Regions from separate parts of the Homo sapiens genome. Here region 1 is linked to region 2. Evidence: fine-mapped expression QTL. Tissue or cell type: whole blood. Region 2 holds a variant in brackets; the other region holds the start of a gene. All regions are shown on one strand. Distances are from middle to middle.

The links. PIP is the estimated chance that this variant, and not a neighbour inherited with it, causes the effect.
Region 1: it holds the start of SYTL3, and the variant in region 2 is fine-mapped to the expression of SYTL3 in whole blood (INTERVAL, PIP 0.96).

What each region holds. Positions count from the first base shown.
Region 1 is chr6:158,645,995-158,654,097 of GRCh38, reverse strand. SYTL3 (synaptotagmin like 3) reads right to left here and starts at 4,044. Exons shown (of 18, transcript NM_001242394.2): 1 at 4,020-4,044; 2 at 2,256-2,345.
Region 2 is chr6:158,090,182-158,098,284 of GRCh38, reverse strand. SYNJ2 (synaptojanin 2) reads right to left here. Exons shown (of 27, transcript NM_003898.4): 26 at 5,181-5,359; 27 at 1-2,667. The coding sequence ends at 1,921. Among named protein-coding and RNA genes, the nearest start is that of SERAC1, 74 kb to the left of the region's middle. RefSeq lists an enhancer at 1,902-2,402. The variant T/GTTT (reference allele first, on the strand shown) is at 4,834.

The DNA of each region.
Region 1 (8,103 bases), 560 kb before region 2:
CATGCACTAGGAGTTTGAAACAATGCCTGCTTGCTTTCCTCAGCCTAACAGCAAATCTTGACTTTGGCTTCTAAATCTGGTGAAAGGGGAAAAGTACAAGAAAAGTAAAACCAATGAAGAAAAGAGATGAGGAGGATGGGAAAGGGACACATTGTTTATTCTTAGGGGCCCCTATTTCTTTCATCCAATCATCTATTGTCTCTGAGCAGTCAGTCATCAGATCAAAGGAAATAAATGTTCAGCCCTCCCTGGTACGGGGGAAACGTCACCAGAGTGGAAATGCAGAGATCTGCGGTAGCATGAGTGCGTGTGAATGTGACTGTCATCACCACACACGCTTTCAAGGGAAGACTACAGAACGTTCTCAAAGCCCACAAGCCACAGCCCTGCAGGTCATTTCAAGCGGGCGGCAGCTCGCTCCTGTATTGTTTACCACAGCTATTTCCTTGAGAAGTTTCACAGCTTCAGCGTGCAGCCACCATGCTTTCTGCCTCGTACACAGGGGAAAAGTTGAGTGACTGCATTGTCCTTGAAATTTTACCTGAAAACCTCATGACTTTTTTGCTTGCATAGATTCTTTTTTTTTTTCTCTGAGACGGAGTTCGCTCTTGTTGCCCAGGCGGGAATGCAATGGCGCGATCTTGGCTCACCACAACCTCCGCCTCCCAGGTTCATGAAATTCTCCTGCCTCAACCTCCCGAGTAGCTGACATTACAGGCATGCACCACCATCCTCCGCTAATTTTGTATTTTTAGTAGAGACAGGGTTTCTTCATGTTGGTCAGGCTGGTCTCAAACTCCCAACCTCAGGTGATCTGCCCACCGTGGCCTCCCAAAGTGCTGGGATTACAGGTGTGAGCCACTGCGACCGGCCTGCTTGCATAGATTCTTTACGGAAGCTGATTACAGCCACAAAGGAAGGTGATGAATAAAGAACAGCTCTCAGCTCAGTTCCCTATTCATAGGCTTAAAAGACTCATTTTTGCAACAATGAGACAGCACGCATGCATATCCATCAGAAAGTCTGACACAGAAATGAAGATGTGCGTTTATACATTTTCTGTCTATCTTGTTACTCATTCAGAGGTGGGTTTTCTGGGAAGCGAATGACACCTCAACTTCAGAATCCTTTATTTGCACGGCCCTGTCCAAGGCCCTAGATGCCCTGTACCTGGTTCCCTCTTTGTTTTCCCAAAGTCTCCACAAGTTGTACAAGTTTCAGGTCCCTCAGATATCTCTACTTCACATTAGAAGACTCGGCTGGGTGCGGTGGCTCACGCCTGTAATCCCAGCACTTTGGGAAGCTGAGGTGGGTGGATCACGAGGTCAGGAGTTTTGAGACCAGCCTGGCCAACATGGTGAAACCCTGTCTTTACTAAAAATACAAAAATTAGCCGGGCATGGTGGTGGGCACCTGTAATCCCAGCTACTCGGGAAGCTGAGACAGAATTGTTTGAACCTGGGAGGTGGAGGTTGCAGTGAGCTGAGATCGCGCCATTGCACTCCAGCCTGGGTGACAGAGCGAGACTCTGTCTCAAAAAAATAAATAAGGCCGGGCGTGGTGGCTCACGCTTGTAATCCCAGCACTTTGGGAGGACGAGGCAGGTGGATCATGAAGTCAGGAGATGGAGACCATCCTGGCCAACATGTTAAAACCCTGTCTCCACTAAAAATACAAAAAAATTAGCCAGGTGTGGCGGCAGGTGCCTATAGTCCCAGCTACTTCGGAGGCTGAGGCAGGAGAATGGTGTTAACCCGGGAGGCAGAGCTTGCAGTGAGCTGAAATTGCAGCCACTGCACTCTAGCCTGGGCAACAGAGTGAGACTCTGTCTCAAAAAATAATAATAATAAAATAAGTAAATAAATAAACAGGCTGGGCTCGGTGGCTCACACCTGTAATCCCAACACTTTGGGAGGCCGAGGTGGGTGGATCACCTGAGGTCAGGAGTTTGAGACCAGCCTAGCCAACCTGGTGAAACCTCATCTATACTAAAAATACAAAAATTATCTGGGCATGGTGGCAGGCACCTGTAATCCTAGCTACCGGGGAGGCTGAGGCAGGAGAATCACTTGAACCTGGGAGGCAGGGGTTGCAGTGAACCGAGATCGTGCCATTGCACTCCAGCCTGGGCAACAGAGTGAGACTCCATCTCAAATAAATAAAAAAAAATAAAAATACATAAAAATAAATAAATAAATAAATAAAACATTAGAAGACTCACACGTGGGCTTGAATCTATAAAACTTGAAGCCTACCTGAGAGAGGACAAAGTTGAACAGGCGCTTTCTCTGAAAGATCACTGCAATTCACCGCTGATTCCGAGTATTCTTTCTCATTCGGGGAGCCTTTTACCACCCAAAAACAACAAAAAATATTACTTTAGAATCAGAAATAGGAATTCATGACTGAAATAGGAAGCCATGGCATTCATACTTTAAACTTGACCTCTTTGTATGGAAGAGCAAAGAAATGAGAATTAATATTATTATTTATTTATTTATTTATTTATTTGAGATGGAGTCTCGCTCTGTCACCAGGCTGGAGTGCAGTGGCGCGATCTCAGCTCACTGCAACCTCCACCTCCCGGGTTCAAGCAATTCCCCTGCCTCAGCCTCCTGAGTAGCTGGGACTACAGGCGCCCGCCACCACACCCAGCTAATTTTTTTGTATTTTTTAGTAGAGTTTCACCATGTTGGCCAGGATGATCTCGATCTCTTGACCTCATGATCCATCCGCCTAGGCCTCCCAAAGTGCTGAGATGACAGGCGTGAGCCATCACACCCGGCCGAGAATTAATATTATTATATCCTTCTAGGTACTACTCACAATTGTTGTTATGCTTTCTGTTGTGCCAACAGCTACTATTTATTTAGCTCTTACTCTGAACCAGATAGTTTAAGTACTTTGCATACATTATCTCTACTAATCCTTATTGCCACATTATGAAGTAAATGTACCCATTCTACAGATGAGGAGAGTGAGTCTTGGAGTGATTAAGTAACTTACCTAAACTCACACTCTAAACTGGGTCTGTTTAACTCCAAAACCTTATGCTTCATTTAGGCAAAGCAGCTAAGTTAGAATCTCCAACTATCTTGGCTAAATAATCTTTTCTACACCAATTCTAATTTCTTTTTTTCTTTTTTTGAGACGGAGTCTTACTCTGTTGCCCAGGCTGGATTGCAGTGGCAGGATCTTGGCTCACTGCCACCTCCGCCTCCCAGGTTCAAGTGATTCTCGTGCCTCAGCCTCCTGGGCAGCTGGGATTACAGGTGCCTGCCACCACACCCAGCTAATTTTTGTATTTTTTTTTTTTTTTTAGAGATGGGGTTTCATCATGTTGGCCAGGCTGGTCTCAAATTCCTGATCTCAAGGGATCTACCCACCTTGGCCTCCCAAAGTACTGGGATTACAGGCGTGAGCCACCGCACCCAGCCCAATTCTAATTTAATAAATCTTTAATATCTAATGTGCACTTTCCTCTCATAGTCTCTTTCTTACCAAGCAATTTAGAGATTAAGGAAGCTTAATTAAAAGAAATTTAAATTAGACCCTAGCTAACTTTTTTATAATTCCAAAATGATATTTATGTTCCACCTCCAAACGAGAAATTACGGATGATCAAAACAATAAAGTCGATTCAGAGAGAGCAAAATAGTAATAAACTGTAAGTATAAGAATTTGCAAACCAAAGAAGAAAGCAAATGACACTCTACCCTTTAAAAAAAAAAATCACACCATATAGCTTTTGGATAGTGTTTTTCTGTTTTGTTTTGGTTTTTAATTAACTCTGAAGTCACTTCCACCATATCACTTAAATCATTATTATCTCAAATGTTAAATGTATGTTATTCAATAAAATTACAAGATATCTTTTATCTAATTTATTATGTTTTGTTTCCTACCTTTTCAATGTCATAAATTTAAGAAAAGTTACAATAACTATAATCTCTACCCACCCCACTCCCCCACTCCTAAAACGACCTGCTGCAACGGCCAGCCATGCCTTCTCATCCTACCTTCGCATCTGCTTCAAGAGAAGAGACCAGAGCCGGCTCTGCAGAGAAGGAAGTCAATTCTTCTTGTTAGAGTAACTGACGTATTTCTCTTCCCTTCCTGTCGGGCACAGGCTGACGCAGTGCACCCTGTGTGGCCAGCCTTACATGCCTCGGTGGCTACTCCCACATCACTAGGGACCCAGGGAGCAAAGCCACCCCAAAACCACATCAAGGAGCTCTTCTATGCCAACATTTTACATTTTTAGCTGGAGGAAAGACCAGGCTGATGCTGGTGAAATGTTTCACCCTTCCTAAGGAAACTCCCTACAGAGACTACAGCCTTCAAATATTCAAATGTTCTCACATTTGTGAAGGGTTTCACATTGACTTCAGTGTAAATGACTAACCACATCTCAAAGAACAGCTATTAACTCAAGAATAATTTACAAGAAAGGGGGACAGCCAGGCCAAGAGCGATGAAGATTGTAATGAAATCACCAAGGGGAACCTTCAAAATGCTGTGCGTGTACTAGGTAGTATTACTCAGCACCGTGAAGTGTCCCTGCCCTGCTAACTCAGGCATGGCCAAGGACTTGCTCTGGAGAGCAATAAGACAATGAAGTGTGTGCAAAGGTGCCACGTGCCACGTAGGCTTGGCACCTACCGAGCCAGTACTGGGGCCACCATTCATTCTCTTTCCCTTCTCTTTCCCTTGATGACTCCAGACACAGGCTGCTCCAGCAACCTCGTCTCAGCATGGAGAAGACATGAAGCAGAGCCATGGAAGATCCTTGATGGTCATGGAGTGTGAGTGGCAAATAAATGTTTGCTGTCATCAACCACTGAGAGTGTAGGGCCATTTGTTTCTGCAGCTAACCTAGCCTATTCTGCTGATGTAGTGTGTAGTGTTTTCACAAACACAGAACTGAGCACCAAACTATTTAATAACTACTATAGCATGAATATTTACCCATTGGAACAAATGCCAGCGGAGGCCCTGCTATACCACGAGTTATCCTTTAGTTATTGGATCTTGGGGATGAGGTCCCAGGGAAGGGGCTGCAGTCACCAGGATTGAGAGGAAGAGGGACCCAAGAAGCTCAGAGCAGCCACTGTTTCATGGGGTACAGAGGTATTTCAGCACAACTGTGCCTCCGCTTCCCAGCTCAATAGCAGATCTAAATATAGGCACTTCTTAGCTAATCTCTTTAGCTTTTCTCAGCACAGGACTCTCACTTTAGATATGTGTCAGCCAGAGTTTCTTTTCCTTTACAACATTAAATTCCTCAGCCATGAGTGTTTCAACAGCACCCTCGTCCTCATCGTCTTCTTCTGTTACTATTATTTTGACTCAGCATGATCTCATAGTAACACACTTCTTGGCACAGGGGAAGAAAGGAAAAAATGGAAAATCCACAGGATGGCATTTGGACTATGAAGGGCTGCAGATTATAGCAGAACAACACTGCTGGATATTATTATTATTATTATTTTTTTTTTTTTTTTTTTGAGACCGAGTCTCGCTCTTTCACCCAGTCGGGACTGCAGTGGCGCGATCTCGGCTCACTGCAAGCTCCGCCTCCCGGGTTCACGCTATTCTCCTGCCTCAGCCTCCCGAGTAGCTGGGACTACAGGCGCCCACCACCGCACCCAGCTAATTTTTTGTATTTTTAGTAGATACAGGGTTTCACCGTGTTAGCCAGGATGGTCTCGATCTCCTGACCTCGTGATCCGCCCGCCTCGGCCTCCCAAAGTGCTGGGATTACAGGCGTGAGCCACCACGCCTGGCCTATTATTTTATTTTTTGAGACGGAGTTTCGCTCTTGTTACCCGGGCTGGAGTGCAATGGCGCTATCTCAGCTCACCGCAATCTCTGCCTCCTGGGTTCAAGCGATTCTCCTGCCTCAGCCTCCCAAGTAGCTGGGATTACAAGCATGCACCACCATGCCTGGCTAATTTTGTATTTTTAGTAGAGATAGGGTTTCTCCATGTTGGTCAGGCTAGTCTCGAACTCCCGACCTCTGGTGATCTGCCCACCTCAGCCTCCCAAAGTACTGGGATTACAGGTGTGAGCCACTGCGCCCAGCCACTGCTGGATATTATTGATGTTATTTATTGATGTGACAGTTCATTGATTGCTATGATTATTAGGCCCACACTTGCTAAATAAAGGTATTGGCAGCTCCAGTCCCACAGTCTGTATTCAAGAAATTTGACTCCAGAAAAGAAAGGTGATTGCACGCAAACCTGCCAACCTATCACTAACCTCCAAATTGAAAAACAAACCTAAGATTCACTCCACTGACTTACTGCATAGAAACTAAACATTATTCTAAAATATGGCAGAATGCCAAAGATTCATGAGCAGTTACGAGTAAAGGTGTCTGAGCTCCAATGCTTCTGATGGACATCCATTCGTGGCAGATGGAAGGTGCTGGAAATGGCATCTGGTGAACTGCCAAATGTCTTAACGATTTTAAATTCCTTAGCCCTACAGACTACATCAGTTGGGCAGAATATAATACCACATCACTGCATTTTTCCAAGCACTACAACATCACATAAGCCTAGAGAATTCAAACCCTCCTATTTACAGATATATCCGTTTAAAAGAAAAAATTCCATAAAGGCCATGTTTTAGTCAACTTTGTAGCCTCAACCCCCAGCTCAGAGCCTGACACAAAGGGAGTGCTCCATATATGTGTATTGAACAAGTGAACAGATAGTTGTGAAGATAAACAGACCAGCTCATCCGTTTACTGGCAGCCTCAAAATGTCATACATCGCGATCATTTAACAAATGTTCTTTAATAGTTAAAATTGGAGAGTGGTACCCAATGTATAAAAGCTAAAATCATGTAAGCATTTTTAAAATGCACATTTGCATGTTTTCTGTTGATTTATGTGCATGCTGGTGATCCGCAGTTATAACAAGATCCATGCATTAATTATGCACCATCCTAGCAGACATTCAGGAAATTGATTTAAATTAGGAAGTTCCTAAAAGGTTGTGGGGAAAATTGAAAAGGCTGTCCCAAGTGTCATGTTCTTCCATTGCAGGTGTTTGCTCAGAACCGGTTTACTCTTGCTTTGCACATAATTCTGTGACACTTAGCTACTGAACTCCAGGTCCACAACAAAGTAGCAGAAGAAAAAAGATTTCAGAGGCTCCTGATTGGCTCAGGATCGTGGTGGGGCCAAGAGCTTGGAACCAGGTAGGCAGAGAACATCCAAAACGAGATCTCAGGTGATACTGAGAAGGGCAGGCAGGCAAAGCAATGTCAGCATCAGAATCACATGTGGACTGAGGCGCACGACTGAAACACCAGGACAGGGGAGTTGAAGCCAGGTAATAAGAAAGGAATTCAAAAGGTAGATAAAGTTCAGAATCCAAGGAGAGGAAGACCAGGTGTGGTAAAGCAACCAGCCTGCCCAGCAAGTCTCCTCGCTCAGGCCGAACACCCAGGGCCAAGCAGCCTTGTGTCAGTCAGGGCTCTGCCCTCCTCTCGCCAGCCCTGTTTCCCTCAAGGAGGCAGGTAGTTGCATCTTCCTCCACTCCCCAGTTCTCTCCATTTGGGTCTGAGGCAAAGCTAACACCCATGAGGGAAATGATTCATGCAATAAATTTTAGGCCGGGCATGGTGGCTCACAGCTATAATCCCAGCACTTTGGGAGGCTGAGGCTGGAGGATCCCTTAAGCCCGGGAGTTTGAGACCTGCCTGGGCAACACAGTGAGATCCCATCTCTACAAAAGACATATTAAAAAAATAGGTGGGTGTGGTGGCTAGTGCCTGGAATCCCAGCTGCTCAGGAGGCTAAGGCAGGAGAATACCTTGAGCCCAGGAGTTCAAGCTCTTAGTGGTCTTTGGATGACTAAACTTCAACACATCTTAGCTCAAAATCTCCGATCACACCACTGCATTCCAGCCCGGGCAACAGAATGACACCCTGTCTCTAAATAAATAAATAAATAAATGTTAATTGTGTAGCTATTATGTGCCAGGCACAATGTGGAAGGAAGGGGATACATTAGTGAATAAAACAGATCCTTCCTGCATGGTACTTAGTTTCTAAATGGAGACACACCATCAACAAGCAACCATAA
Region 2 (8,103 bases):
AACGAAGAGAAAACCTAAAAATGAGATCTATTTCCAGCACTGCAAGCAACTTTGGAGGAGCTTACTTTTCCCCTGCTTCTTTGACTGGTTGTTACATTTATCTGTTTTCAAATTTATCTCCTTTTTGGTGAGAAAAGAGGTTATAGGGAAAAGAGCATTTGAATGAATTCTTCAATTTCATTTCATTTATGACTCTGGCTGTTAATAGCGATGTGCATCTTGGCAAATCAGCTTCTCCAAGGAACCCATCTTGCTCTCTCCCCCAAACTCTGTTAAGGACCATTCTGTTTATTTCTTGTGTTTGTTACAGAGGTAAAAATCATATAAAGCACGTAAATGCCACCAACGGCATCCTGATCACCTAAACACCGCCTTTTATGACTGGTCAACTATGCATCTTATCTGTCTAGCTCTGTGGGTCACGGATTCCTTTTTTTTTTTATCCTTTTCCAGGTATTAGTTTTCAGATGAAAAGAGATACGTGTTGTAACTTTTGTTTTGATGGCCATATTTAAGTAATCTGCAATATATCTTGACAGTGACAATGAAAACTAATTATGAAATTCCAGATGTCTAATTGGTAACAAGACAGTGGCATAGCCCAGGCAAGATGATCCTTACTATCCTAGCAGTCAGCTTTTAGGACAGACATCCCCCAGTCACGTAAGGGATGACACTTGATCACTGCTGTGCGAGCCTCTGTACGAGGCTCCCAGATACAACAGGCGGTACAGTAAGATTTCACTACTGAACTTCTTATTAAATAGCGAAAACACGGTATCTGCTCCAAATGGATTCCAGACCTTGTAACATTACTTTAAAAATGTAAAGCACTATGGTAATGTCTTTTTCAGTTATTGAATAGGTGAGAAGTGCTGTTGGAAACGTGGGAAAAATGTATAGGCAAAAAATATAGACAAACATATAGACAAGCAAACCCAGAAACACTGGCCTGGTGATTCTTATATGCAGGGACACATAGCACTTTCCATCCCGAAGCTCCAGCCGGACAGACGAGGCTGAAACACTCTCCATATTCTAACAATGAGAATCAATATCGCGTATCAGCAAGAGTTTTCGCACTGTGTGCTTTTATGTGGTATGCATGGAATATAAGCGGAACAAAGGATCCGTGAGGTTTCATTTAATAAGGACTAGATGGTGGATAAAAATTGGTTTCAGTAGCACACCATGGCTCAGGATTATAGTAATTGATAGGGCATGCAATGTCTAAGACATGGCACAGGAGCCTTCAGCTAGTTTAAGCTAAGGTTAAGCTAACGGTGTATGCCACCGGCTCCCTCGGGATTCACGCATCATCAAGGTTAACGCACATGTACACACTTAAACATGAAGGCTCATGGGAATGTACAGTCTAGTCATTAGGTTGACCTATTTGGCTGCTTCCGACTCTGATTTTTTGTAACCTTGTTTAAGTGGGCCAGGACAGCTACTAATGGTCACAACGACCTCTTTCTCTAATCCTTACTTTATACATCAACCTTCAGGTGGCTCCCCAAAATGTTATACCAAATCTGTAAAATGCAAATAAAACAAAAGACAAATCTCCATCACGTACAACATGAACTGAACAGCCATTTAAAAATTCAATGGGTGAGAACTTCTTGGACCTCATTGGCTAGATTCCTTTCTTAAAATCCATACACCGAATTTAACAGGAAGGTTCCCATTCCTTGAAGAGCAAACTTCAGATGTACAAGCCTTGAGTGAAATATATTTTGGTGGCTGAGTAACCATCTTACTGAATAAGAGACACGATTTTTGTAAACTACACGAGAGTGACAGATGCACAAACGTTTTGGCCAGTGTGCCTTTAAATAGATGTCTCTTCTGGTGGAGGGATGTCTAGAGGGAGGAAGGTATGCATTCTATAGGACTGCAGCCTTCAAAGCTGCTCAGTCATGTTTTTGCCAGTGGGTCAAACACCTGCAGTGCTGTCCTCTTTTCTTGGTCACTGATTGTCACCCAGTGACCTAAGGTTTTGTGTTCATGATCTGGTGGCAGCTCTGCCTTGGCAGCTGAAGCGCCAGCTGACACTGGGTCTATGGGATCTCTTTTGGGGCTCCTGGTTCCTGAGTCCAAAGGGTCTGAGCTCTTAGAAAGCCAAGTGTTATTCAACAGTTTAGGGTGGTGAAGAAGGTTCCAGAAGGGGTCCTGATAATCACCAAGAAGTGGGGCTGCCTCTGGCTTCATCGCTTTGGTGCCATCGCTGTCGGGGCTTGTAGCAGATGAAGTGCTGAGAAAGTCCCCTTGTGGGAAGACGGTGCCCGCGGCAGGTGGGTGCCCAGAGGGGCTGTCACTGCTATTGTAAGTGAGGCCCTGGAGAAGCTGGCTGTTGCTCTGCAGGACCTGCAGGTGGAAGGCTGCGGGGGCTGACTTCTTCCTCCTCGGGGGTACCTTGGGCACAAGAGGCGGCGCCTCCAGAGGTGGTGGCACAGAGGCTCCTGCCCCAGGAGGGGCTTCGTCTGATGCTGGCTTCCTGTGGCTTGGCCTCTCTGCAGCTTTCCCAGGCTGAAATGTTCTTGGTTTGGGAACAGGAGGGACTCGAGGGGCTGTCACGACAGGAGGGGCCTCAACGCTTGTCTCCGGGGGCCCGATTGTAAAATGGACAGTCTGTTGCTCAAACTGTTCTTCCGGTGACAGGGGCTGAGAAAAGGTGGGACAAAGAGTGTAAATAAGAAGCCAATAACTAGGCAGCTGAGGATCAGAGAACAGAGTGGCCAGCAGAGAACAGAGATGAGACCAAGCTGACATTCTAGCAAATTCGAGATTTGAGAATGTGTGGGGTGCCAGAAATGTGACCAGGTAAGAAAAAGAAAAAGCACAGGAGAAACACACATTTATCAGGTCACACCAGCAGGTCCAATGAAAACGAGTGGAAAATTTAAAACCAGGGCCACAGTAAATAATCAGACAAACTTTTCTTTGTCCTTTAGGAAATGGGGTGATGCTCTTCCTTTATTGAAAGCAAACCTCTCTGAAAACACTCTTTGAAGTTGCAACCTGGGCTGATTCATGGTCTGTATCATGCTAGGGTGAAGTAACTTGTGTTACAACATAAGCTAACTGAAGGACTAATGGATATACTTTCTCCTTGAATTTTTTTTTTTTTTTTGAGAAGGAGTCTCGCCCTGTCCCCCAGGCTGGAGTGCAATGGCGCAATCTCAGCTCACTGTAACCTCCGCCTCCCAGGTTCAAGCGATTCTCCTGCTTCAGCCTCCCGAGTAGCTGGGATTGCAGGCGCCTGCCACCATGCCTGGCTAATTTTTGTATTTTGTAGTAGAGACGGGGTTTCACCATGTTGGTCAGGCTGGTCTTGAACTCCTGACCTCAGGTGATCCACCCGCCTCAGCCTCCCAAAGTGCTGGGATTACACGCGTGAGCCACCGCGCCCAGCTCCTTGAATCTTTTATACTTAAATATTGGTAAAGAATGGAAACCTTGACACTGCCTTGGTTCTGGTTCAAATCTATCACAAAGAAAACAACTGCACAGGCAAAATGAAGCTTTTGTTCAGAAAAGGTGATCAGTAGACTAGTTAAACATTGGCGTTTCAGTGTTTCTTTGGTTCTTTAGAAAACAAACTAAGAAAAAAGAAAGTCTCTTTTCCAACAGCCTTTTAACTTTAACTCCTGTGCAGCAGGTTGGGAAAATGAATCTATTTCTGCTCCTGGCTTTTACAAGAAAAGACAAAGCAGGTGGTCCCCGACTTACAATGGTTCCACTGAGGATTTTCCACTTCACCCTAGTGCACAAGCGCTAATGTTCCGTAGAAAGCATACTTTGAATTTTGAAGTTTGATCTTTTATTTTTATTATTATAAAATAGGCTGTGTTGGATGGGTGTTTTTTTTTTTTTTTTTTTTTTTTGCCCAGCCGTAGGCTAATGTATGTGTTCTGAGTGTGTTCAAGGTCAGCGAGACCATGACGTTTGCTAGGTTAGGTGTATGAGATGCAGTTTTGACACGCTATTTTTCAACTTACGATGGGTTTATTGGGATGTAACCCCATTTTAAGTCGAGGAGCATCTGAACAGGGAAGAGGCGGAGGAAAAAGGTCCACTTTGTAAGGAAGCATGGACAAGGGACAGATGGCAATGAGCCAATGTGGGACAGAAGAGCAACCCAGGAAATACAAAGCAAGCGCTGTCAAGAGTGAAGCCGAAGCCCCCCTCACACTCTCTAGGGGGGAAGCAGCATCGTGCTGTGATGACCAGGAAGGGATTACCGAGGGTCCGTTACTAGAACACTGAGATCAAACGGAAGATCCAGATGTGTCTACAGATGCCAGTCTTTGGGCTGCTACTGTCCTTACAAACTCATGTCTTTGAAGCAGTAAGCAAGGCTGAGAAGCTTGAGAGCGAGAGCAAAAAACAATCTGCAAGAAAAGTGGCAAGAAAAGCTGTGGAACCTCTCGTAGGCTGAGGCCGCACGAGAGCATGTGAACATGGCGAATCTGGGAATCGGTTACTGTTTTCCTAATGCCTTGAAACCATGTGCACACAACACAGACCACACGCAAATGGGCGGTACCAGAACATGTGGGGAAAAGCATCCCACTATGGTTCCCTTTGGGGACTCAAAACACTTAGGAAGCATAATACCTCCAAGCTGTTCTTGTCACACTGACAATGTGCCAGACAGTGGACTCCTCGTTCTTCTCAGCCAGAGCCAAGACACAGTAGGATATGAGGGAAGAAGCAGTTGTCAAAACTTTCCCCAAAGACACACCTGTGTCTGGGACTCATGAACGTGAGGATGTCCATAGGGAACTAGATTTTTATCTGTGAGACGCAAATCTGTTTTTTTTTTTT[T/GTTT]GTTTTTTTTTTTTTTGAGGTGGAGTCTCACTCTGCTGCTCAGGCTGGAATGCAGTGGCACGATTTCGGCTCACTGCAACCTCTGCCTCCTGGGTTCAAGTGATTCTCCTGCCTCAGCCTCCTGAGTAGCTGGGATTACAGGCGTGCGCCACCACGCCCGGCTAATTTTTCTATTTTTAGTAGAGACGGGGTTTCACACCATGTTGGTCAGGCTGGTCTTGAACTCCTGACCTCGTAATCCGCTTGCCTCGGCTTCCCAATGTGCTGGGATTACAGGCCACAATTCTTATCTATCGAGACATGTGAGCAACTTAGGAGTAAGAGGTTTTATGTTACCAGGCTTTTACCTTTCCTGTCCTTCTCAAGGTTGGCTTCTTGATGGCAGGAACTCTGGGTGGGGGCCGACGGGGAAGGAGTGGGGGCGCCTGTGGGGTCTCTGGTTTGGCTGCCCCCGGTGTGGGCTCTGGTTCAGAGGATGCTTCAAGGTCCCTTGGGGCCACGGCACTTAGGGCTTCTTCGGAGGCACCTGAAACATAAAACCACATGGCTGAAGTGTAAAGGACAAGGCAATTCACTGCATGATTTCGTCCTTAGACAGTCTACATCCTAAGTGTCATTTACTAATTCAGTGTATTTCAGGAGTAATCAGCTAGATTCAGTCCCAGCTTTTTTTCTTTTTTCTTTTTTAAGATGGGCTCTCGCTCTGCCACCCAGGCCGGAGTGCAGCGGCATGATCACGGCTCACTGCAGTCTCAACCTCCCAGGCTCGAGCAATTCTCCCATTTCAGCCTCCTGAGTAGCTGGGATTACGGGTGAGCACTGCCACGCCCAGCCAATTTTTAAAATTTTTAGTAGAGATGAGGTCTCACTATGTTGCTGGAACTCCTGGGCTCATGCAGTCTTCTTACCTCAGCCTCCCAAGTAGCTGGGACTACTGGTGTGAACCACCACGCCCAGCTAATTTTAAAATTTTTGTAGAGAGAGGGTCTCATTGTGTTGCCCAGACTTGTCTCGAACTCCTGGATTCAAGCAGTCCTCCCACCCCAGCCTCTCAAAGTGCTGGGATTACAGGCGTGAGCCACCGCACCCAGCAGTCCCAGGTTTTCATGCTCACCTTCCTAGCAGGGGTGGTGATCTGGGGTCTGTGGATAGTTTGGATGGGGACCAGTGAGACCCTGAGATCATATGCAAAGTCTCATGTGTACTTACATTTCTCAGGGTAGATGATCCAAAGACATCAAAATCTCAATGGGGCCATGACCAAGAAAGTGTTAAGCCGGGACTGTAGGTAGATTTCACACCTCTACTAACATCTACATCTCTAGAGTTTTTTTTTTTTTAACAGCTTTATTGTGACATAATTCACATACCGTGAAATTCACCCTTTCTAAGTGTACCATTCATTGGTTTTTAGTGTATCCACAAAGTTGTGCAACCATCATACGATCTAACTCCAGAACATTTTCATCACACAAAAAAGAAGCCCCACAGCAGCCACTCCCCACCCAGGCCTCCTTCCAGTCCCTGGAAAGCAAGAAGAACTTTCTGACCCCATGAATTTGCCTGCTGTGGCCATTTCATAAAAAGGGGATGGTACACTATGTGGCCTTTTTTTCTTTCTTTCACATAGTATAATGTCTTCAAGGTCCACCCATGAAGTAGTATGTATCAGCACTTCATTCTTTTTTTTTTTTTTTTTTATGAGACAGAGTCTAGCTCTGTCACCCAGGCTGGAGTGCAGTGGCGTTATCTTGGCTCACTGCAACCTCTGCCTCCCCAGTTCAAATGATTCTTCTGCCTCAGCCTCCCGAGTAACTGGGACTAACAGGCACGTGCCACCACGCCCGGCTAATTTTTTTGTATTTTTAGTAGAGATGGAGTTTCACTGTGTTAGCCAGGATGGTCTCGATCTCCTAACCTCGTGATCCGCCTGCCTCGGCCTCCCAAAGCGCTGGGATTACAGGCGTGAGCCACTGCACCCAGCACCCAGCCCCATTCTTTTTTTTTTTAATGGCTGAACAATATTCCATTGTATTGATGGACCACATTTTGTTTATCCATTTATCAGCTGATGGACACTTGGGTTGTTATATCCATAGTTTTAGTTATTTTTCTTTCTTTCTTTTTTCTTTTTTTGAGACGGAGTCTTGCTCTGTCACCCAGGCTGGAGTGCAGTGGTGCAATCTTGGCTCACTGCGAGCTCCACCTCCCGGGCTCAGCCATTCTCCTGCCTCAGCCTCCTGAGTAGCTGGGACTACAGTCACCCACCATCACGCCCGGCTAATTTTTTGAATTTTTAGTAGAGACGGGGTTTCACCGTGTTAGCCAGGATGGTCTCGATTTCCTGTCCTCGTGATCCACCCGCCTCGGCCTCCCAAAGTGCTGGGATTACAGGCGTGAGCCACCGCGCCCGGCCTAGTTTTAGTTATTTTTCTAAAATAAAAAAAAAGAAAGCATTTGTAGCAGTATCATTCTACAACAGTAGTTCTCGACCTTTTAACTCATGCCCCCTTAAATATTATTTGAGAATTCCAAAGAAGTTAAACATGCTGACTAAAAGCAAATTAAGCAATGGTGATTGCTTACACCTTTTTAAAGGGCACACTCGGCCAGGTGTGGTGGCTCACACCTGTAATCCCAGCACTTTAGGAGGCCAAGGTGGATGAATCACCTGAGGTTGGGAGTTCAAGACCAGCCTGGCCAACAAGGTGAAATCACATTTCTACTGAAAATACAAAAATTGGCTCATCATGGGGCTGCGCGCCTGTAGTCCCAGCTACTCAGGTGGCTGAGGCAGGATATTTGCTCGAACCTGGGAGGCGGAGGTTGCAGTGACCTGGGATTGAGCCACTGCACTCCAGTCCAGCTGACAGAGTGAAACTCAGTCTCAAAAAAAAAAAAAAAAAAAACAAAAAAAAAAACGAAGAAAAGGGCACACTCTCCTCTCTAGGAGATTCTGGAACAAAGCCAAGGCCAAAACTAAAAGTGTAAATTACCAGTGATTATGAATGAAGTGGGGGAGAGCCCAAGGTAACTAACATGGTTTAAGTAACAGCAACAAAAAATAATGTGGTGGGAAAGAGGTCCCTGCCTGACACTAAAAACTTTATTTCCACTTGCCAGTGATTTAAAAGGTAGATTTTGTGCCTGAAATTAGGACAAACACTATAACTGTCTCTGTTTTATAAAGCTGGCAGAATGACTTCATGCCGGCAGCATTCACCTTTTTTAAAAACTCATTTTGGTTTTTTTCGGTCTCTCCTTTAGACG